2 linked regions of the Homo sapiens genome follow. The protein of the gene in region 1 binds, or shares a complex with, the protein of each later gene. Each region holds a gene or a part of one and is shown on either strand. Other genes may lie near its edges.

Region 1 (10,458 bases):
CTTTGACTTATACTGCCCCCACATTCCTGCTTCTTCACTACTATATGAGAAGTAACTATAATACAGATTAATCATGGTCAGGATTCAGCTTGCTTCATCAAATACCACCTTTGCCTGGGCCCAGTGACTTATGCCTGTAATCCCAGCACTTTGGGAGGCTGAAGCGCAAGGATCGCTTGAGCTCAAGAGTTTGAGACCAGCCTGGATAACATGACGAGACCCTGTCTCTACTAAAAGTCAAAAAAATTAGCCACACATGGTAGTGCATGCTTGTGTTCCCATCTTCTTGAGAGGCTAAGGTGGGAGGATCGCTTGAGCTCAGATGGTTGAGGCTGTAATGAACCATGTTTGTGCTACAACACTCCAGTTTGGGCATCAGAGTGAGGCACTGTCTCAAAAAATAATAATAATAATAATTACCTTTTTATTAATCAGAATACCAAAGAACACTGGTAAACAAATTAATGAAAGATGATTGTTCTTTTAATTTCCTTGACCCAAAGTATTTAAGCTGCCAACCTACCGCAAACCTGTTGTAAAGACATATATTATTTTTGTACTAAATTTCATTCCTACGGATAGGCAAAATCTGTTTCCTTTCATGGAAGAAATGGAATTCAAGAAAATGCTTTTCTTGAATGACCATTGCTGTAACGACAGATTGCAGAACTGTTCTTTTTTTCCTCTCTCTTTTTTAATAAGGAGACCAACTTGCCAGAGCAGAACTGTTCTGTATCAGCTCTTTGCCAACACTATAATCTGCTTCACTTGTATAAAAATGTATGAACATTAACTTACAGCTCTTTCTAAACAATATAGATGAGTAAAAGTTACTAAAATATGTTGTAAACATTTCTGCTGATTTTGCCTTAAACTTGTAACTAAGAGCTTTACAGAACTTCCAAAACTTGAAAGAGTTCAGGAATCCTTCTGCCAAAAACATAGCACCATACTGGATATAAATGTACCTGTATCCTATTCTAACCACTCCCCAACCCGCATTTGAACTTCCACCCTTGAAACTTTGCTTATCCTTTCTAATGCAGAGAAAGGAATACGTTAAATATGTAGATGACTGCTTCCCCAGAGCTAGCAAAAAGTCACTTACCATTGCCCTAGTTCCTTCTCAACCCTTCCTCTTTTTATCAAAAGTCATCCTATTTTCTCTAAATTAGGCATATTGCCTATTTTTATTGCTGGAGCATCTTGAGTATGCTGGAACCTTGGGGCTTCGGCACCTGCTCTCTACTTTTTTACTCCTAAAACAAGAAAATCCTTGACAGTATATCTCACTTTTAATCATTTGTTGGTCTTTAGTCTTGGTTCTTACCTCTTCCTGTACCCCATTTCACTTAGAGCCAGCACTTATTAGGGATTTGATCTTAATTGCAAATATTATCAGTAAAGTGTTTAAGAAAGCTATTGACAAGAGAAATGAATACAAATTTAAAAGACTAAAGTTTGGTAAACTATTTTACATACCAGCTGTGTCCATAGGAAAATCACTCAGCAATTTTTTTTTTTTTTTTGAGACAGGGTCTTGCTCTGTCTCCCAGGCTGGAATATAGTGGTGCAATCATGGCTCACTGCAGCCTCAACCTCCTTGGTTCAAGCAATCCTCCCACCTCAGCCTCCAAAGTAGCTGGGACTACAGGCATACAGTACTGCACTTGGCTTGTTTTTTATTTCTTGTAGAGATGGGATCCTACTATGTTGCCAGGCTGGTCTCCTACTCCTGGCCTCAAGCAGTCCTCCCACCTTGGCCTCCCAAAGTGCTGGGATTATAGACATGAAACATGGCACCTGGTGTCAACATTTTTAAAGTGCTTTCCATGAACCCTGGTCTATTAAGTTTTAGGAACTTAGAGATGAATAAGGCATGATTCCCCCCACCCCCACCCCCAGGGATCTTGGTTTAGGGGCAAATATTAATATATTCTGTTATGATTGCATCATTTTTCTAGTGTAATTCATTAGATCTTTTCTTAATGAAACTGTTAGACACTATCTTCATATCACGTAAGTTATTTTGAGTGGTGGTTGGGGCTGTTATTAATTTTATTATTATCATTGCACTTTGCATGAAAAAAACAAAACCACATCTAACATTATATAGCTAAGGTTATGTAAAGGTACCAACCCATGTTAATTTAAGATAATGTAATTTTATGTATGTGTTTTAATGATTTGCCTAAAAAGTACTTGTGTATCATAGTATTGCTCTTAAAGCACTTTATCTCTGTTATTACACTTACCAGAGTATATGATAAATGACCTATCATAATAGAAGCTTCCTTCATTATATGGTAATATTTTCAAGAGCAAGGACTAGTCAGTACATCTTTAAAGAATAGCTTCTAGAAAAATAACAAAATGTTTTTATACTTTTTATGAATCTGTTTTAACTTACCTAGAATTCCAGCTTAGTAACTGTTTGTTGAGCATATATTATATACTGTATAATTTAGTTTTGCTCAAAATTTTAATTACAGAAATTTAGTTATACATTGGAGTACATAAACTAGTTGAAACATAATTCTACATACATGAAGAAATAGAAGAAGAACAGTTATTAGCTTTCTATTTAGTTGATGTGCAGTTAGGATGAACAGGAATTTTTATTTACAAAATGGATTAACCTTACTATTCTGTCTTTAGATGTGACAAAGGAGATCCAAAACAGATGGTCGTGAATAATATGGCTGTCTAGGCTTTTTAAATTTTTTTTGAAGGAAAAAAAGTGATTCAAACAAAATGTAGCGTAGCGCTATACAGAGTGATTCTTTCCAAATAAAATTGCTTTATATCCTAGTCAAATTATAACAAATATTTATGACAGAGGGATTAGACAGATTATCATTATTATTTCTGAGACAGGGTGTTGCTCTGTCACCCAGGCTGGAGTACAGTGGCACAATCACGGCTCACTGCAGCCTCGACCTCCCTGGCTCAAGTGATCCTCCCACCTCAGGCTCCCAAGTATCTGGGACCATAGGCTTGCACCAACCTTTTATTCTTTGTAGAATCAGTGTATCACTATTTTGCCTAGGCTAGTCTTGAACTCCTGGGCTCAAGCAATCCTCCTCCCTCGGCCTCCCAGAGTGCTGGGATTACAGGCGTGAGCCACCACACCTAGCGTCAAAGTTAATTCTTCATGTAGAAAAGCAGCTTCTCTTTTATATAACCATTTATTGAAATCTCCATCTTTGTATTCATAGAACTGAAGAGTAATAAGCACAGTGAGTCACCAGGAGCTACAGAATTAAACATGTGCCACAGTAATTGCCAAAATAAACCAACATTAAGGTTCCCAGATGACCAAGTAAATAATACTATTCAAAATGGAGGAGGAGATGACTTATCTAATCAGGTAAGGCTTTATTGTACACTGTATAGTTCAAGTTGATATTTAGAAGGGTGATTTACTACTGAAAAGGTTTGGGACCATATCAGGGACGTGAGTTCTGTTTTTTTTTTTTTTTTCTTTTGAGATGGAGTCTCCCTCTATTGCCCAGGCTGGAGTGCAGTGGCGTGATCTCGGCTTATTGCACCCTCTGCCTCCTGGGTTCAAGTGATTCTCCTGCCTCAACCTCCACCTCCTGGGTTCGAGTGATTCTCCTGCCTCAGCTTCCCGAGTAGCTGGGACTACAGGCATGCACCACCACGCCTGGCTAATTTTTGTATTTTTAGTAGTAACGGGGTTTCACCATATTGGCCAGGCTGGTCTCGAACTCCTGACCTTGTGATTCACCCACCTCTGCCTCCCAAAGTGCTGGGATTACAGTCGTGAGCCACTGCGCCCAGCCAAGAGTTCTGTTTTTCAAGTATCAGCTTTTCATTTACTTGGGGACTGAATGTCTTGATATTTATTTTCCCTGTCTCTCAATGAAAAAATGCAGGCAACAATAAAAGTTTTAGCTTTTAGAGTAAAGCTTAAATAAAGCATATTTTTAAAAGCACTTGAAAAACCACAAAGTATTAAATTAATGTAGAAAATATGTAGGATAATGGATTCCCAGATGTTGCTCGTAGTGCTCAAGGTCTGGCAAGTAAGTTTCGGAATGTGTCCACTAATGAAATTTGCGGAACTGTAAGTACCTAGAAATTTGTATGCTTGATGCATACTATGAAAATGCTTCAGATCATGTTTTGGTAGTAGTTTTAAAATAAAACCTAGGTATCTTTTTGTTTTGAAGGAATTAATTGGAAAAAAAGAATATAAAATGTCTTCAAAGAAACTAAAAATTGGTGAAAGAACAAATGAAAGGATAATAAAAAGTCAGAAGCAAGGTAATATATCTTTAATGGTTTTTTAATCATAAGCAGAAAGCTACTATGTGAAATGTTTTTAATATGATAAAAGTGATCTTGTAAATTTCCTCATGTAAAATGGCAAATTATTTAATGTTTTTAAATGTTTGGTTTTGTTATTTTTACATAAGATGATTTTCATAATAAAATAGCCCTTTTAAAAACCACCTATACTTACAGGTTTGCCTTCTTTAATCTGGGTACTAAAATATTTGTTTAGATCACAAAACTATATATCATTTAACATATGCTTACAGGAATGTGTAAAGAGTGAATCCTTTTATGAATTTAGTACAATAATTTAGTTTTAAGTGTGGATTTTCAGAGTGATTTAATTGGAATCCTGCATGCCATAATTTAGAGGCTTTCGTCTAAATGTTAGCAAGTTTACAATTTCATGTTGAGCTAAATCCATTAGCTTTATAGCATTTTTTTGTGTTTTATTTCCTCTTATAAGTGAAAAGAAGTGAAAGTGAAGAACATTTATTTGTTTGAAGAAGATAGGAAAGCAGTGCTACTTATACTTCCGAGTTCATATTCGGTTTAAGTATCCAAGATAGCTGGATCTTTATTAAATAATTTATTAAAATTAACAAATACTCTGAATGGAAATATTGTTCAAAATTATAATGTTGAAAATTTTCAAATTCCCAGGTAAACATTTGAATTGGATTTATATGAGGAGTTAGAAGAAAATACTTTTCTCATAATTTGAAGATATATGATGCCAGTGGAAAATCTTGTAGACACTTTCTAAATTATTTTGATTATTACCTTTTTCCACGGATTGTAATTTAGAGGCTTCTTTTCTCCCCAGCATTCAATATTATCTATCAGTCTCATTCTGTCAGTCATCTTGTAAACAATGGCACATAATATGTGGAGGTGGTTGTAATATGTTTCTATGACAGTGGGATGATTTGCAGTTTATATGTATTTCTAATTACAGTTGGATAGTTTCAGTTAGTTTGACTTCTCATTACTTAGGTTTTGAATTGGTGAATTGTTCTCATTTTAATTTGCTTTCTTTAGTGACAAGATATAAGATTCTCAGGTTGTTCTCTTTTGCTTGTTTTGTACTTCATGGTGTTTGGGGGGATTCATTTTGAGTGTGTTTCTATGACCACCATTGGCAATGAAAGTGGAACCATGCAGATGGAGTTCCATGTCCTCCTAACTAGCACAGCTCATATAATACTTAGTAAGGTTTCAGTGACTACTGGTTTTCTTATATCTTCTGAATATTTTACCTCCAGGGCTTTGATTTAACAAGTATTTACTTATTGCCTACTGTATATGTGAAAGGCTCTGTACTAACTCCAGCAAAAAAAAAAATCAAACCATACAGATAAAGTTCTAACCATTAATTATTTTTTCCAGTCTGATTGAAAGACAAGTGTGCAATTATAATACATGTCTCACTGTCAAACATGGCATTATTTAAAGTATTCTGGAAACTTGAAGGAGAGCTTTCATTCAGTGTAGGGAATGTGTACAAGTTTGTACACTAGGTGGGTTAGAGAATAAAATCGAAGCAGGTAGTGATTTTGTTTATAGATGAATGAAGAACATCTTCAAAGCAGAGTGGACAACATTATTAAAAGTGGAGAACCAAGAAAATCTGAGAAATAGCAAGTGGTGTGGTTCTGAACATAGAATATAGTTGAGATTTTGACAACAGTGAGAGATTGGAACTATGTGGAAGGCCAGGCAGAGGAGCTTATTTATATGTCTACTAAAAGACTGTGAGAAGTCACTGTCAGGTTTGTATAAACAATAGTATATGTTTACAGTTGAAGGGGCAGTGGTCTGAATAGACCTGGGCTTCAGAAAGATTAATATGACAGGTGGGTATACAGTGTAGCTCGTGGATAAAAATAGTATCTTTTATTTGTGAAAATATATTTTCTGTGCTTATATTTGTTTATAGCTAATTTGAGATTTTGGTCTTTGGTTTTGTCTTATGAAATTAAAGAGACAACTGAAGAATTGGATGTATCCATTGATATTCTAACCTCAAGGGAACAGTTTTTCTCAGATGAAGAAAGAAAATACATGGCCATCAATCAGAAGAAAGCTTATATTTTAGTAACACCACTTAAATCTAGAAAAGTGATAGAGCAAAGATGCATGAGGTATAATCTGTCCGCTGGCACCATCAAAGCAGTAACAGATTTTGTAATACCAGAGTGTCAAAAAAAAAGTCCCATCAGCAAGTCCATGGGGACTTTAGAAAATACATTTGAAGGTCATAAAAGTAAAAACAAGGAAGATTGCGATGAACGTGACTTACTTACTGTCAACCGGAAAATAAAAATATCTAACCTTGAAAAGGAACAAATGCTCACCTCTGACTTTAAGAAAAATACCAGACTATTACCAAAATTGAAGAAAATAGAAAATCAGGTAGCTATGTCATTTTATAAGCATCAGTCCTCACCAGATTTGTCAAGTGAAGAAAGTGAAACAGAAAAGGAAATTAAAAGGAAAGCTGAAGTTAAGAAAACCAAAGCAGGAAACACCAAAGAAGCAGTGGTTCACCTGAGAAAGAGCACAAGAAACACAAGTAATATTCCAGTGATTTTGGAACCTGAAACTGAAGAAAGTGAAAATGAATTTTATATCAAACAAAAGAAAGCTAGACCTTCCGTCAAAGAAACTCTTCAGAAGTCTGGTGTTAGGAAAGAGTTTCCAATTACTGAGGCAGTAGGATCTGATAAGACAAATAGGCATCCCTTAGAATGCTTACCTGGTTTAATTCAGGATAAGGAATGGAATGAGAAGGAGTTACAGAAACTTCATTGGTAAGTAGTTAGATTTCATTCCGAAATATCTACAGAGCAGCCACAAGACAGTTAAAGACATAAAAATAGCAATAAGGGGTTAACATGGAAGATGTCATTAAAAAAAAGGGAGAAATTATAATTTGCACAGGGAATGGAGATAGACTACACATAACTCCTAGTGGTATTTTTGTGGTCATCTCTAATACGAGGAAAGTACGAGGAAAGCCTAAGTATGAGGAAAGTAAAAGTGACCTTTTCATTCCCATGTAATATTTCAAGATAGCCAAATAGTACTCTCTCACGTAGCTTCATATTTTAAGAAATGCATTTTTTTGTTTTTTGTTTTGTTTTGTTTTGATTGAGACGGAGTCTCGCCCTGCTGCCCCGTCTGGAGTGCAATGCCACAATCCCGGTTACTGCAACCTCTGCCTCCCGGGTTCAAGCGATTCTCCTGCCTCAGCCTCCTGAGTAGCTGGGACTACAGGCGCACGCTGCCACGCCTGGCTAATTTTTATATTTTTAGTAGAGATGAGGTTTCACCATGTTGGTCAGGCTGGTCTTGAACTCCTGACCTAATGATCCGCCCACCTTGGCTTCCCAAAGTGCTGGGATTATAGGCATAAGCCACCGTGCCCGGCCTAACAAGTGTTATAAATAGTAAAGTTTGGTGCCCCACAAGTGAGACTCAAGGATACTAGAAACCTAGAAGTGGGCACTGAAGGGTAACAAAGAGAGTTTAAAGAGGAGCTCTCCAGTTCTGGGTTGAGGAGCAGAAAGGGGGACTTCTGACACTCAGAAACAGTAGAGGAAATCCCCAGTGTTTGGTTTGGTTTGTTTTTGTTTTGTTTTGTTTTGTTTTGTTTTGTTTTTGTCTTTTCTCTTAACTCAGTCCCCATGCAATCCTGCAGGGGCTACAGTCACAGCATCAGCTGGGGCTGAGATATATCTAAAACTCTGAGAGATGAGAACCTTCTCTACAATTAGGAATGGTTGCCTCAAAGTAGTGGGGCAAGTACCTGTTGCTTCTGTTCTCTTTCTGTTGTCTGTTGCTTGGTACTGGACAAAAATTCAGTTGTGTGAGGCATACAGCAGAGCAGAGTAATAAAAGCCCCAGCTTTCTGGCCAGAGCACTGACAAGGGAAACTCCAGGGAACCAGAAATCGCGGAAAGAGAGGAAGTAGGAAAAGCAACCCCATAAAGTTGTTTATGAACTTCTATGCCACCCAGGAGTTGTACATATGTGGACATGGTCCTAAAGAGCATATAAAAGACTGAGAACTGAACTAAACAGTAGACCACACCCAGTTTCTAGGCTAGCTACTCAGTGTCCCACACACAGGAAGATCCTAACAGCACTGCAGAGCTTTGAAAAATGAAACTGACATTGAAACAACAATGATAGTAGACTGAACGTATAGCTTGGGATACCACCAGGTTGATGACCTGCTAAAATAAAAATATTAACATTTCACTTGAAGCAGTAAAATATTGATTCTAAGTAGACTGTTGAAGTTAAGTATATTTAATGTCATCCCTAGAGCAACTTCTAAAAAAACTATACAAAGAAATAATTTCAAACATAAATTAAAATACTGGAAAATCAAATAGCCCAAAAGAAGGCAAAGAAGAAGAGAAGTGGAGGATTTTTTTACATGGAACAAGCAGAAAACAAATAATAAAATTATTGACCTAAATCCAACATAATTAAATTAAATGGTCTAAACATACCAATTAAAAGACATATTGTCAGAATGAATTTAAAAACATGATCTAACTATATGCTGTATACAACAAACTCACTTTAAATATAATGATATAGGTAGGTTAAAAGGATAGAAAAATACCGTCTAAACACAAATCAAAAGAAAGCTTGAGTGGCTATATTAATATCTGTCAAAATAGACTTTAGTAGGAAGAAAATAACCAGGAATAAAGAAAGACATTACAAATGATAGAAGGGTCAGTCACCAGGAAGGCATGAAATTCCTAAGTGTGTATGCACCTGACAATAAAACCTCAAAATACATGAGTTAAAAACTGACAAGTGAAAGCAGCGGACTAAACTACAAGGATAGTCAAATCCACAGTTATAGGAAACCACACTGCTCCTCTCTTGGTATTTGATAGAACTGACTGAAAATTAGCAGGGATATAGAACTGAACAACACCATCAGTCATTCGTATGATTCACATTTACAGAACATTCCACCCAATAATAAGAAAAAGAATAGGTTATTTCCAAGGATAGGTTGATCATTCATCAAGATAGATCATAAAACCTCTTAACAGATTTAAAATAGCTGAAATCATACAAAGCATATTCTCTGATGATAATTGAATTAAACTACAAATCAATAAAATAAAGATAGGAAAATTTCCAAGTGGTTGAAAATTAAATAACTTATTAATACGTATAACTAATCTGTGGGTCAAAGAAGAAGACTTAAAGGAAAGTAGAAAATATTCTTTTATTTTATTTTATTTTATTTATTTATTTTTGAGACGGAGTCTTGCTCTGTCGCCCAGGCTGGAGTGAAGTGGCGCGATCTCTGCTCACTGCAAGCTCCACCTCCCAGGTTCACACCATTCTCCTGCCTCAGCCTCCCGAGTAGCTGGGACTACAGGCGCCCGCGACCACGCCGGCTAATTTTTTGTATTTTCAGTAGAGACGGGGTTTCACCGTGTTAGCCAGGATGGTCTCGATCTCCTGACCTCGTGATCCTCCCGCCTTGGCCTCCCAAAGTGCTGGGATTACAGGCTTGAGCCACCGCGCCCGGCTTCTTTTATTTTTTTTCTTTTTGGAGACAGAGTCTCACTCTGTCACCCAGGCTAGAGTGCAGTGGTACGATCTCAGCTCACTGCAACCTCCGCCTCCTGGGTTTAAGCAATTCTCCTGCCTCAGCCTCCCAAGTAGCTGGGATTACAGGTGTGTGCCACCATATCCAGCTAGTTTTTGTATTTTTAGTGGAGTTAAGGTTTCACCATGTTGGCCAGGCTGGTCTCGAACTCCTGACCTCAAGTGATTCACCTGCCTTGGCCTCCCAAAATGCTAGGATTACAGGTGTGAGCCACCAGCCCGGCCAGATATTCTTAACTGAACAAAAATGAAAATATATCAAAATTTGCAGCATGGGCCTAGGAGTTCATAAACAACTTTAAAGGGTTGCTATGCCAAGCTCCTCCCTCTCCCTGATTTCTGTCGTACTTTCTACATAAACAAATTAGGGTGCATTCTTTCAGTGGATTACTAAGCAGTAAAAAGGAAGAACTATTGATACATACAACAACCTGGTTGAATTTCAAAGGCATATTGAGTGAAAAAAGCCAACTCAAAGGGTTATACACTATATGATTCCATTTA
Region 2 (10,496 bases), on another chromosome or scaffold:
CACTGTCAGCTTTACTGAGCACCATTGACAGAAGGGTCAATGGACTGTGGCCGAACACCAACTCACTTTCCTAGCACTCACTATGTGCCAGGAAAGCATTCTAAGCACTCCTGTGTTTAGCTCACTTAGCCCTCACCAACTCATCTAAGGGGTGGGGATCTATTATCATCCCTTTTTCACAGAGGAGGAAAGTGAGGCACAGAGAGGGTGAAGGCCTTGTCTAGCTGGCTTGATTCCATGCTGTCTCTGACAGTGAACTGACACTTTGTGATGGATTTACTATGTCTGTCCTTATGGTGACAGGCCTCCTGGCTTCACACAAGGACACTACACTTCAAACTGGCTGTGTGCTAGGCTTCTGCAGGAACCAGCTATTCCTTTAAATGTATTTCTGTTGGTGGTTGTGAAAATGCACACCATGGCCGGGCGCGGTGGCTCACGCCTGTAATCTCAGCACTTAGGGAGTCCGAAGCAGGTGGATCACAAGGTCAGGAGATCGAGACCATCCTGGCTAACACGGTCAAACCCTGTCTCTACCACAAATACAGAAAAAAGAAGCCGGGCATGGTGGCTGGTGCCTGTAGTTCCAGCTACTCAGGAGGCTGAGGCGGGAGAATGCCATGAACCTGGGAGGCAGAGCTTGCAGTGAGCCGAGATTGTACCACTGCATTCCAGCCTGGGCGACAGAGCGAGACTCCATCTCAAAAAAAAAAAAAAAAAAAAAAAGAAAATGCACACAACTATGCCATTAGGAAGCCCTGGGATTCACAGTGATTCATAATTCTGAGAGCACTCACCACATGCAAGGCACTCTGTGAGGTGCTCCAAGGCAGGAACTCCACTTTATATATGGAAACTATGGTTCAGAAGATGCAGGCCAGGCTGGGTATGGTGGCTCACGCCTGTAATCCCAGCACTTTGGGAGGCCAAGGCGGGTGGATCACCTGAGGTCAGGAGTTCGAGACCAGCCTGGCCAACATGGTGAAACCCCGTCTCTACTAAAAATACAAAAAAAAAAAAAAAAAGCCAGGCGAGGTGGTGGGTGCCTGTAATCCCAGCTACTTGGGAGGCTGAGGCAGGAGAATCGCTTGAACCTGGGAGGTGGAGGTTGCAGTGAGTCAAGATCATGCCACTGCACTGGGCAACAAGAGCAAAACTCCACCTCAAATAAAAAAAAAAAAAAAAAAGATGCAGGCCATTTGCCCAATGTGATCTCGCTAAGTGGCAGAATCCATTTGAATTAAGATAAACCATTTCTAAAGATTAAGCACTTTTGCCTCCTACTCCTTCCTACCTCCTTTGTTTTTTGCTTTTTACACAACTTTTGGGTTACCCAATCTCTTGAGAATCTGCCAACTCTCTCCCCCTAGAAAAAATGCTTATGTGCACATACATGTCAAGTTCTGTATGCAATTTCAGACACAGGCCCTCTCAAGCTCTGTGGCTACCTTAGAGGTGGGATAGACCTATTTCTGGTCCTAGGATATTGCTGGGCTCCATAAACAGCTTCTGGGGAAAACAAAATAAATGTAAACTTAAAGCATCATTAGTCACCTTGGGAATACTGTATTCATTCTTCTTGATCCGGAGGTAGGTCTCTTTTAGGCAAGAAGTCTCAAAAGGTGGTTTGCCCACTAACAAGGTATACCTGTAAGCACAAGGTAGGATTTGGCACCAGTCTCCCAGCCACAACCCAGACATGAGAGAAATCATCTCAGGGTCAGAACAAAGGTCAGGCATCCTCTGGACACTCACTCTAACTCTGGGGCCCCTGAAGACAATCCCTAAGTCCACTGAGCAGCCCCAGAAGCCATGACATTGGCTAGAATAAGCCCTCAGCAGAATACACATGGTGAGACCAGGATTCTTAAGGGCCAGTGATTTTTTAGCTATAGCCTGTGGTCATCTAGGACTCTGTGCAAGGGCCTCAGATGCTGCCTGTCATGCAAAACAGGTCAAAGGGCTACCTGCGCTTACAGAAGCAGCTCCACCTTTAGCAGTTCTGTACTTAAGTCTTCAAGTTTTCATTTGAAAAAACCCCACTGCAAAGACGTATGAAAGCCATTGCTACAACTCATTTCTAACTCTCCAGTACCTAGGCCCAAAACAAGAAAGATAACACCTGAAAAGGCCCAAGCCTCTGCCTGCCACCAACCGCTGCTGATGGTCTTAATCCAGACAGACCACTGGCACATCATCTTTCCATCTGTAACTCCTGGCCTAATTTCCCCCACCATGCTAATGCTCATCGGTGTTTAAGACCTTATTGTGCAAGGGAATCACCAAGGGACCTTGTTAAAAATCCAGATTCTGATCCAGTAAGTAGTCTGGGTCCTGAGATTGTGTATACAAGTTCCCAGATGATGGTGATGCTGCCCTGTGGACAACTCTAGCAAAGGACTACAGTAAGGTTGTGGAGACTCTCCCTCCTCCTCCTCCGCTGTACCCATGACCTAGGCTGCAGAAATCCGACAGGATACACCAGTGACAGGGAAAGATATGACAATTAGGCTTTGTTTGGGGATGACTTGTCCCTTGGAGTAGGCTTTCTGTAAAGCAGGCCGAAAGGTCCACAGAAAAGGTCAGCCAGGTAGGATGTCCCAAAGTTGCCCCTGCTGAGACCAGGTTGGTCCAGAGACAACTCCCAACTTACATGATACACCCAATGGACCACACATCCACCTCGAAACTGTGCCCTTTCTTGCTCAGCACCTCGGGAGCTATGTAATTAGGAGTCCCACACAGGGTCTTCTTCCTCTCCCCGTCATATTCGACTTTGGTTGCCAGTCCAAAATCCCCTGGGACAGAGGGAGGAAGAGTTGGTACTTAGATGCCAGCCTCTGACATCTGTCAATGCAGAAGGCTAGTTAAGGTTTGACCATCCAGAACCAGGGCCATCTGATCCCACAAGCCTCTGCTCCTTGTATGTAGCAAGGCTTGCCCAGGAATCTTCCTCCCATGCTGACACCAGGGAGGTGCCTCCAGTGACACTTCTCACCCCTCCTTTTAGAAAGGGGCTATGCTTTGAAACAGGAACTGACAGGGATAGTAAAACTCCAATGCCTTCAAGGATCAAGCAAGTTAACCTCCAAGACTTGGCAAGTCTGTGAAGAATAGGGAGGAGTAGAGACTGTGGCAAAGAAGTCTGAAGGGGACAGCTGTTTTCCAGCCCAGCAAAGGGCTGCCCTAAGAAAATGCTGTCCTCGTATTACTGAAGCTTTCACCTGTTTAAAAGGAGTTCTGAATCAAACTTTTTGTTCAATCAAACCTTCCAATTTAAAAAATAAAAACAAATTCAAATTCTTTGTAAAAAAAAAATATTGCATTGGGGCACAAAAAAATAATGCATCTGTAGGCAAGATACTGACTTGTGGGTTGTCTCCTTCCTTTCTCCCAGCCTCCTCCAAATTCCAGCCTCTTGTAGTGATGTCAAGCACCCCTGCAGGCTCAGCAACTCACCTATTTTCACCTCCAGATCTTCATTCAGGAAAAGGTTGCCCAGCTTGAGGTCTCGATGAATAACTCGGTTTCGGTGCAGGTACTGGCAGCCAAGCACAATTTGCCGTAGGTAGTATCGGGCCTCAGGCTCAGTCAGGGCTTTCCTCCTCTTGTGCAGCTCCAGGAGAGACTGTGGGTGGGAAGGAGAGGGCAGGAGGGATGGGGAGGTGGATTGAGGCCGGTGGGGAAGGGAGAGGGTTACCAGGCAAAGGAAGCACAGGACTGGACTCTGGACTCCCAAGGGATGAAAGAGGGGTCTTGGTGGGTTTCTCTCCTTCCCTATGCCCCCACCCCATTCCTTCTCCAGCACAGCGGCATCTGGACCCTGCCTTAACACTGTCCACAACCATTCGCAGCACCCCTTCTCCTACTAGCTTCCCCCCTTACCTGGGGGTCCTCTCTCAGCCCCACTCCGGAAGCTCCGAGTCCCCAGCACCAGATCCCTTTCCTGACTCGTATCTCCCCCGGAAGGCCCGAAGTCTGGCTCCAACTACCCCCCCACTGACCCAGCTCCACCCCAGAAGCTCCCAGGGCGCGGCATCACTAACCTGGGACTCCTCCCTGGGTACTCCAGGGCCCTAGCGTCCATTACCAGCACCCCTCCCCCCAGCACCTCGCGTCCAGAAGCTGACTTCCCTATCAGCAACATGACTCAGACTCCACTTCACTGGAACCCCCTCCTCTAGCAGCTCCCAGAGCCAAGAAGCCCTTACCAAAGACACTTTCCATACGTAAGCGGGAGGCTCCCAGCACCCTTCTCTAGCAGCTCCAAGTCCCAGGCTCTCCCTTGCTGGGTACTCTTTCCAGCAGCTCCAGGTCTGGGCGCTCCAACTGCCCCGCAGGCAGTTCCAGTTCCCCAGCAGCGACACTCACCCTCCGGCGGCAGAGCTCCAACACCACGAACACGAAGTCGTTGTCCTCGAAAAAGCCGTGGAATCCTACGACGTGCTGGTGGGCGAGGCTGCGGTGAATGGATATTTCCATGGACATCTTCTCCCTCTGGTGCGGCTTGAGCAGCAGAGACTTAGGCACAATCTTGCCCGCGAACACCTCCTTGGTGTCCGCGTCCGAGATCTCGAAGCACTTGGCAAAGCCGCCCTTGCCCAAAAAGCGGCCCCGCACATAGCGCCGCCGGCTGCGTGGGTCCACTAGGACCTCCGGGATCTCTTTCGCCGGTGGAGCCGCCGCCGGAGCTCCGGGAGCTGCAACTCCGGGGACCCCGGCTTTCCCAGGGTCGGCCGGTGCCCGTGCCAGCTTCCCTGCAGTCACTGCAGCACTCATGCTCCCGAAGCTGCGCTGCAGACCTCGATCCGAGCAGAGCCTCCGCACCGCTCCGCTCCTCCCCGAATTCAAACGCGGCGCTGGGAACGTTACAAAAGCCTGCGCGCCACTGATTGGCCGCGGGGATTTAAAATCCAAACCCGCCCGCCGCGCGGCACCATGGGAGCGCCCTGCGCAGCAGCAGCCTTTAAACCCGGACCCAGCCGGGGAAAACCTGATTGACACGGACGCCCGAACACGTGGGATAGCCTGGGAAACCAAACCCGGCGTGGATGCGGAGACCCAGCCCCGAGAGAGGAGGAATTCCTTCGGGGTTTCTCCCTTTCTCGGGCGTCCGGGAAAGCTCCTGCGGTTCACTTGCGCCTCCTCCAGGAAGCTTTTACTTAAATCTTCCTCTACCTCGGGGCCAGGGAACAGTAGCATCGCCATCACCTGAGAGCTTGTTAGAACCGCAAAGGCAAACGTTCAGGCCCTACCCCAGACCTCCCGAGTCAGTGTCCGCCTCTCAACAAGACTGCTCAGGTGATTCCTACACATCCTGAAGTTGGAGAAGCACAGTACCAGAGCCCCCCATGATGCAACGAAGCTGTCTGGCCTCCTCGCTACTGAATTTCCCAGGGCCTAAAATAGTGGACACTCAGTTTCTTGGTCAGAGGGAGGGAAGGTTGGAAGAATGCCTAGCAAACTGGCAGGTCATAGCCAAATGTGTCTTGCGGGGTTTTGTTTGGCCTCCCCCCACGCCTTTTTTTTGTGTGTGTGACGGAATCTTGCTCTGTCGCCCAGGCTGGAGTGCAGTGGCACGATCTCAGCTCACTGCAACCTCTGCTTCCCGGGTTCAAGCAATCCTCCCGCCTCGGCCTCCCTAGCAGCTGGAATTACAAGCATGCACCACCATGCCCGGCTAATTTTTGTAATTTTAGTAGAGAAGAGGTTTCACCATGTTGGCCAGGCTGGTCTTGAACTCCTGACCTCAAGTGATCTGCCCCTCGGCCTCCCAAATGCTGGGATTACAGGCGTGAGCCACCGCGCCCCGCCATTGTAAAACATTTACAGCATTTAAAAGAGGAGCTCATAAAAGTTGGGATTTGTGGCCTTTCCTGAAAAAAATCAGCTCTAGCTACTTACTCTGTGCCTACATGCTTTCAGTTTGCCACAGTTTACAGCTACACCCGTTTGTTCTGTAGGTACTTGAGTGGCAACCCTGGAACAGTAAAATACCCACGTTAAAAGCTCTTTCTCTGTGCCTCCTTAGCACCCTCTGATCCTTCATAGAGCCCAGCAAAAATCAACCATACTATAAGCATCCTTCACCTGCCTTGCAGCTAAGCTGAAGGACAATGAGGACAATGATGCCGTCCTTTCTACCCCATGTCCCAAGCTCCCAGAGCAGTGCTTGGTAAAAAAAAAAGGGTACTTACTAAAATGTTGGCTGAATAAAAGGAAGACTTTGAAAAATTAAGTTATTTTGTACCCCTATAGTGTGAATTCTTTTTATTGAAATTTAATACACTTACAGAAAAAAATGTACATATTATAATTGTTCATAGAGCTCAGTGAATTTTCACAAACTGAACAAATCTGTAAACCACACCCAGATTGAGAAAGGGAACATGACAAACACCCTGCAAGTCTCCCTTGTGCCCTGTGCTGGGGGGTGCCAACACCACCACCTCCTAGTCTGATGATGTACTAGGAGATTCACAGACTCAGCCTGTAGTCATACTCATGGCTATGTTTTACTACAGCGAAAGGCTAGGAAGCAAAATCAGCAAAGGAAAAAAGCGCATGGACAAAGTCCAGGGAAACCAGGTGTAAGCCTCCCACAGTCCTCTCCCAGCAGAGTCACATAGGACACAATTCCTCCAGCAATCAGTTGTGACAACCCATGTGCAATGTTGTATACAAGGGAAGCTCATTACAGACTCAGTGTTCAGGGTTCTCATTGGGAGCTGCTCACCTCATCCTCTGCCTAACACATATGAAAATCTGACTCCCAGAAGGAAAGCAGATGTTGGGCATAACCCACATTGTTTGTACGAACAGTTTAGGCACAGTGAGCCACTCTTATCATTTAGGGAGTAATGAGAACCCTCCTGAAATCCAAGCTTTCAGATGCCAGCCAAGGGCCAGCCTTGCAAACAGGCCTGCTTTCTCATCTCTTTTCACACAGTCCATCTCCTTATTGAGGCTTCTTTACAGCAAAATTATTATTAGTAGGACCACATGCAAAAGGGTGAGACCAACCTCAAATATGGACCTCAGTTCTTCCTGGTAGGGGTCCTGGACTTAACCAGCTAAAATAAATCCCATTAACCATAAAGTCTATCTTAGGAAGCCAGGTGGCTTCCTCCTTAATTCCTTTTTGTTGTTGTTGTTGAGATGGAGTCTTGCTCTGTCACCCAGGCTGGAGTGCAGTGGCGTGATCTTGGCTCACTGCAGCCTCCACCTCCTGGGTTCAAGCGATTCTCCTGCCTCAGCCTCCCGAGTAGCTGGGACTACAGGTGCACACCACCACACCCAGCTAATTTTTTTATTTTTGTAGGGACTACAGGTGCACACCACCACACCCAGCTAATTTTTTTATTTTTGTATTTTTACTTTTCACCATGTCGGTCAGGCTGGTCTCAAACTCCTGACCTCAGGTGATCTGCCCACCTCAGCCTCCCAAAGTGCCGGGATTACAGGCATGAGCCACCGTGCCCAGCCCTTAATTGCTGTCTGAACCTTTTTTTTTTTTTTCAACCTGACCTGAGGCATCAATTCAGGCACAGTATAACTCTGACCAGTAAGCGGAAGCTAACCCAAATGCTTTCCAGGGCTGAGGGGACATCATGAGAGTTGTGGTCATGTACAGAAGCACAGTCCCAGGGGCACAGGTGGTACCCCTGTAAACAAAGAATTTGCAATATTAGGGCACCTCAAGCAGGACATCCATTAGGCTGTACAGGTGAACAGACCTCCTACCAGGGGAACTCCTGCCCAAGTGTTTCCAGTCCCATCTGAAAAGTTCCCAGAGTCCTTGGCTTCCAAGGGACTGCCTGAAGGCAGTGAGTCCCAAACAGTTTTGCTTGTTCAGGATACAAGTTGATCCATCTCATGAGCATGGATGACATTTGTGGGAGATCTTCATGGAAAGCATAGAAGCTAGACCCACTCTGTTGTCAGTCTGAACTCAAAGCACTCACAGCACATGGAAAGGCAGCACTGGGAATTTTCCTTCAGCAAGAGGAGGCTTCCAGGGATCAAGCCTCCCCAGGTGCCAGGCTTTAATTATTTTCTCCAATATTACAAAAACAGTCGTGCCCTGTTCAGCAATCATAACATTGCATTTTTTCAACCATCTCTTACTCTCAGCTAGGCCTTTCCTCTGGAAGGGTTGTATGTAAGAGGCACAAAAGCATTTTTGTAGATAAACTTTTTTTTTTTTTTTTTTGAGATATGGTCTGGCTCTGTTGCCCAGGCTAGAGTGCGGTGGCACGATTTTGGCTCACTGCAACCTCCGCCTCCTGGGCTCAAGCCATCCTCCTACCTCAGCCTCCTAAGTAGCTGGAACCAAAGGCACATGCCATCATGTCCAGCTAATTTTTGCATTTTTTGTAGACACAGGATTTCACCATGTTGCCAGGCTGGTCTTGAACTCCTGAACTCAAGCAATCTGCCCACCTCGGCCTCCCAAAGTGCTGGGATCATATGCATCCATCACTGCGCCTGGCCAACATTTTTTTTTTTAACTATCATCCTAGAGTTCAAGTAGATAAACGTTTTTATGCAACTTAACCAGAAAGACATTCAGAAATTGGTAATTATGTGTGGAGGGTTGAATTATGTCCCCACAAAAATTCATGCTGAAGCCCTAACCATCTACCTGTACCTCAAAATGTGAGTATATTTGAAGATAGGCCCTGAAGAGGTAACTAAGTTAAAATGGGATTGTTAGGATGGGCCCTAATCCAACCTGAGTGGTATCCTTATTAAAAGAGAAGATTAGGACACAGACACCCAGACAGAGGGACCATACAAGGACACAGTAAGAAGGCAGCCATCTGCAAGCCAAGCAGAGAGGCCTCAGAAGAATCTAAAGCTGTCGACACCTTGTCCTGGACTTTCAGCCTCCAGAACTGCAGGAAAATAAGTTTCTATTGTGTAAGTCACTCAGTTTGTGGTACTTTGTTATGGTATCCTTAGCAAACTAATAAAGGATGAAACCCTGAATTTTTAAAAATTTCAAAATGTGTTTACATAATCTTCTACCCCTTTTGTCCTGATTATTCAATGAGCAGACTAGAAAAGCCTAATACCTTTCTGGGGACAGCTACGTTTTAATAATCCACCTACCTTACTAAGCTGTGTGTGCTGGGAGAAAAGTGAGGGAAGTAGAGTCAGGCTGTCAGTCCACTGTTGCAAGCTGCAACTAATCCCAAAAGCTGAATGCAACAAGTCAACAGCAGTGAGAGAAGCCCCAGAGAAGGTTTGAGTCTGGTCTGTCAAAAGCAGGAGGAGAGGTCATAGTCCTTGCGATGTGCCCTTCCCCAGCTTGGAGCGTTTGGCAAATATTAGAAGTTAGGAATGCAATTAGCCTCTGTATTAGAGACAAAGAGCCTATCAGCAGCTTGATCTTAGATGGTCCCATTAGAGAATAAGCCCTTTTCAGCCAGGTTCCAGGACGTTTTCATAGTTTAGCGCTCCACGGAGGGGGTCCTTAATCTCCAACGGCCCCAACGTCTGAGTCCTGGTCATTGAGCCTGTGCCTGCTTTCAGTTCAGCATAGCTCGTGTTGAGGCTAAAACAGCTCAAGGCAGACAGTAGCAGGTTTCAGCTTAGAGTCAGGGCCAGGCAATTAGGATCTGAGAATTTGAGATTCTCAACAAGCAGCTGCTTTTCTTCAGCAGCAGTGAAGGCATGCTGCATGGCCAGACAGCTGTGGTCCAAGTGACATGCAAGGCTGCCTTTTTATCTTGTTGGTCTTAGAGTCCAATTGACCCACTCAAAAAAAATGCATATTAGACTAGACAATCATCAGCCTCTAAGGGGAGACATTTGATTTTGACAAGGGTTCATTAGCAATTTAACTGTATTTTCATTTTCCAAACAGATTGCTTCTCTTTACATGTTGTCTCCCTCTTTCCCGAGGCTCCAGTAAGCACGAATCACAGCAAAAATAATCAGTTACAGCCTGTTCTGGTTCCAATATCCGAAGAATTTAAATTCCAACCTATCCACTAGTGGCAAAAAACTAGAAAGCTGTATCCCACTAACACCTTTCATATTTTATTTTTGAGTAGCTTTATTTGATTAGGGTGATCCCTCTAGCATTTATGAAATTAACAAGCATAAAACTTTTTTTTTAAGAGATGAGTAGCTGGGACTACAGGCGCACGCCACTGCGTCCAGCTAAGGTATGTTTTTTAAGCAATGAAATCAACCAGTAAAAACAAGTTCAAATATTTTTCATTCACACACTCAAGGCCTGCTGAGCATCCACTGCATGTGTTTTACTTGTTCCATTAGAAAGGTTTATTAAAAAATGGCGGGGCACAGTGGCTCATGACTGTAATCCCAGCACTTAGGGAGGCCAAGATCGCTTGAGCCCAGGAGTTCAAGACTAGTCTGGGCAACATGGTAAAACCCTGTCTCTATTTAAAAAATAAACAAATACAAGCAAGTTTTTTTTTAAAAAATGATATATTAAAGAAAATCCTCCTAATTCTCTTATGTCT

The links.
Region 2: the proteins of MIS18BP1 (region 1) and PLK1 are in contact, whole or in part, in a crystal structure (PDB 8S31), measured with the Homo sapiens proteins. Residues at the interface, in NP_060823.3 of Homo sapiens: Asn73, Ile74, Phe75, Gln76, Ser77, Thr78, Met79, Leu80; in NP_005021.2 of Homo sapiens: Lys413, Trp414, Val415, Asp416, Tyr417, Asp419, Tyr485, Ser487, Glu488, His489, Leu490, Leu491, Arg516, Phe534, His538, Lys540.

The regions. Positions count from the first base shown.
Region 1 is NC_000014.9:45,220,575-45,231,032, reverse strand, and holds part of MIS18BP1 (mis18-binding protein 1), read left to right. Parts: intron 1-3,218; coding exon 3,219-3,370; intron 3,371-4,196; coding exon 4,197-4,290; intron 4,291-6,286; coding exon 6,287-7,115; intron 7,116-10,458. UniProt on the Homo sapiens protein: Required for recruitment of CENPA to centromeres and normal chromosome segregation during mitosis.
Region 2 is NC_000016.10:23,673,216-23,683,711, reverse strand, and holds the start of PLK1 (serine/threonine-protein kinase PLK1), read right to left. Parts: upstream 4,824-10,496; 5' UTR 4,780-4,823; coding exon 4,372-4,779; intron 3,629-4,371; coding exon 3,460-3,628; intron 2,799-3,459; coding exon 2,654-2,798; intron 1,649-2,653; coding exon 1,555-1,648; intron 1-1,554. UniProt on the Homo sapiens protein: Serine/threonine-protein kinase that performs several important functions throughout M phase of the cell cycle, including the regulation of centrosome maturation and spindle assembly, the removal of cohesins from chromosome arms, the inactivation of anaphase-promoting complex/cyclosome (APC/C) inhibitors, and the regulation of mitotic exit and cytokinesis.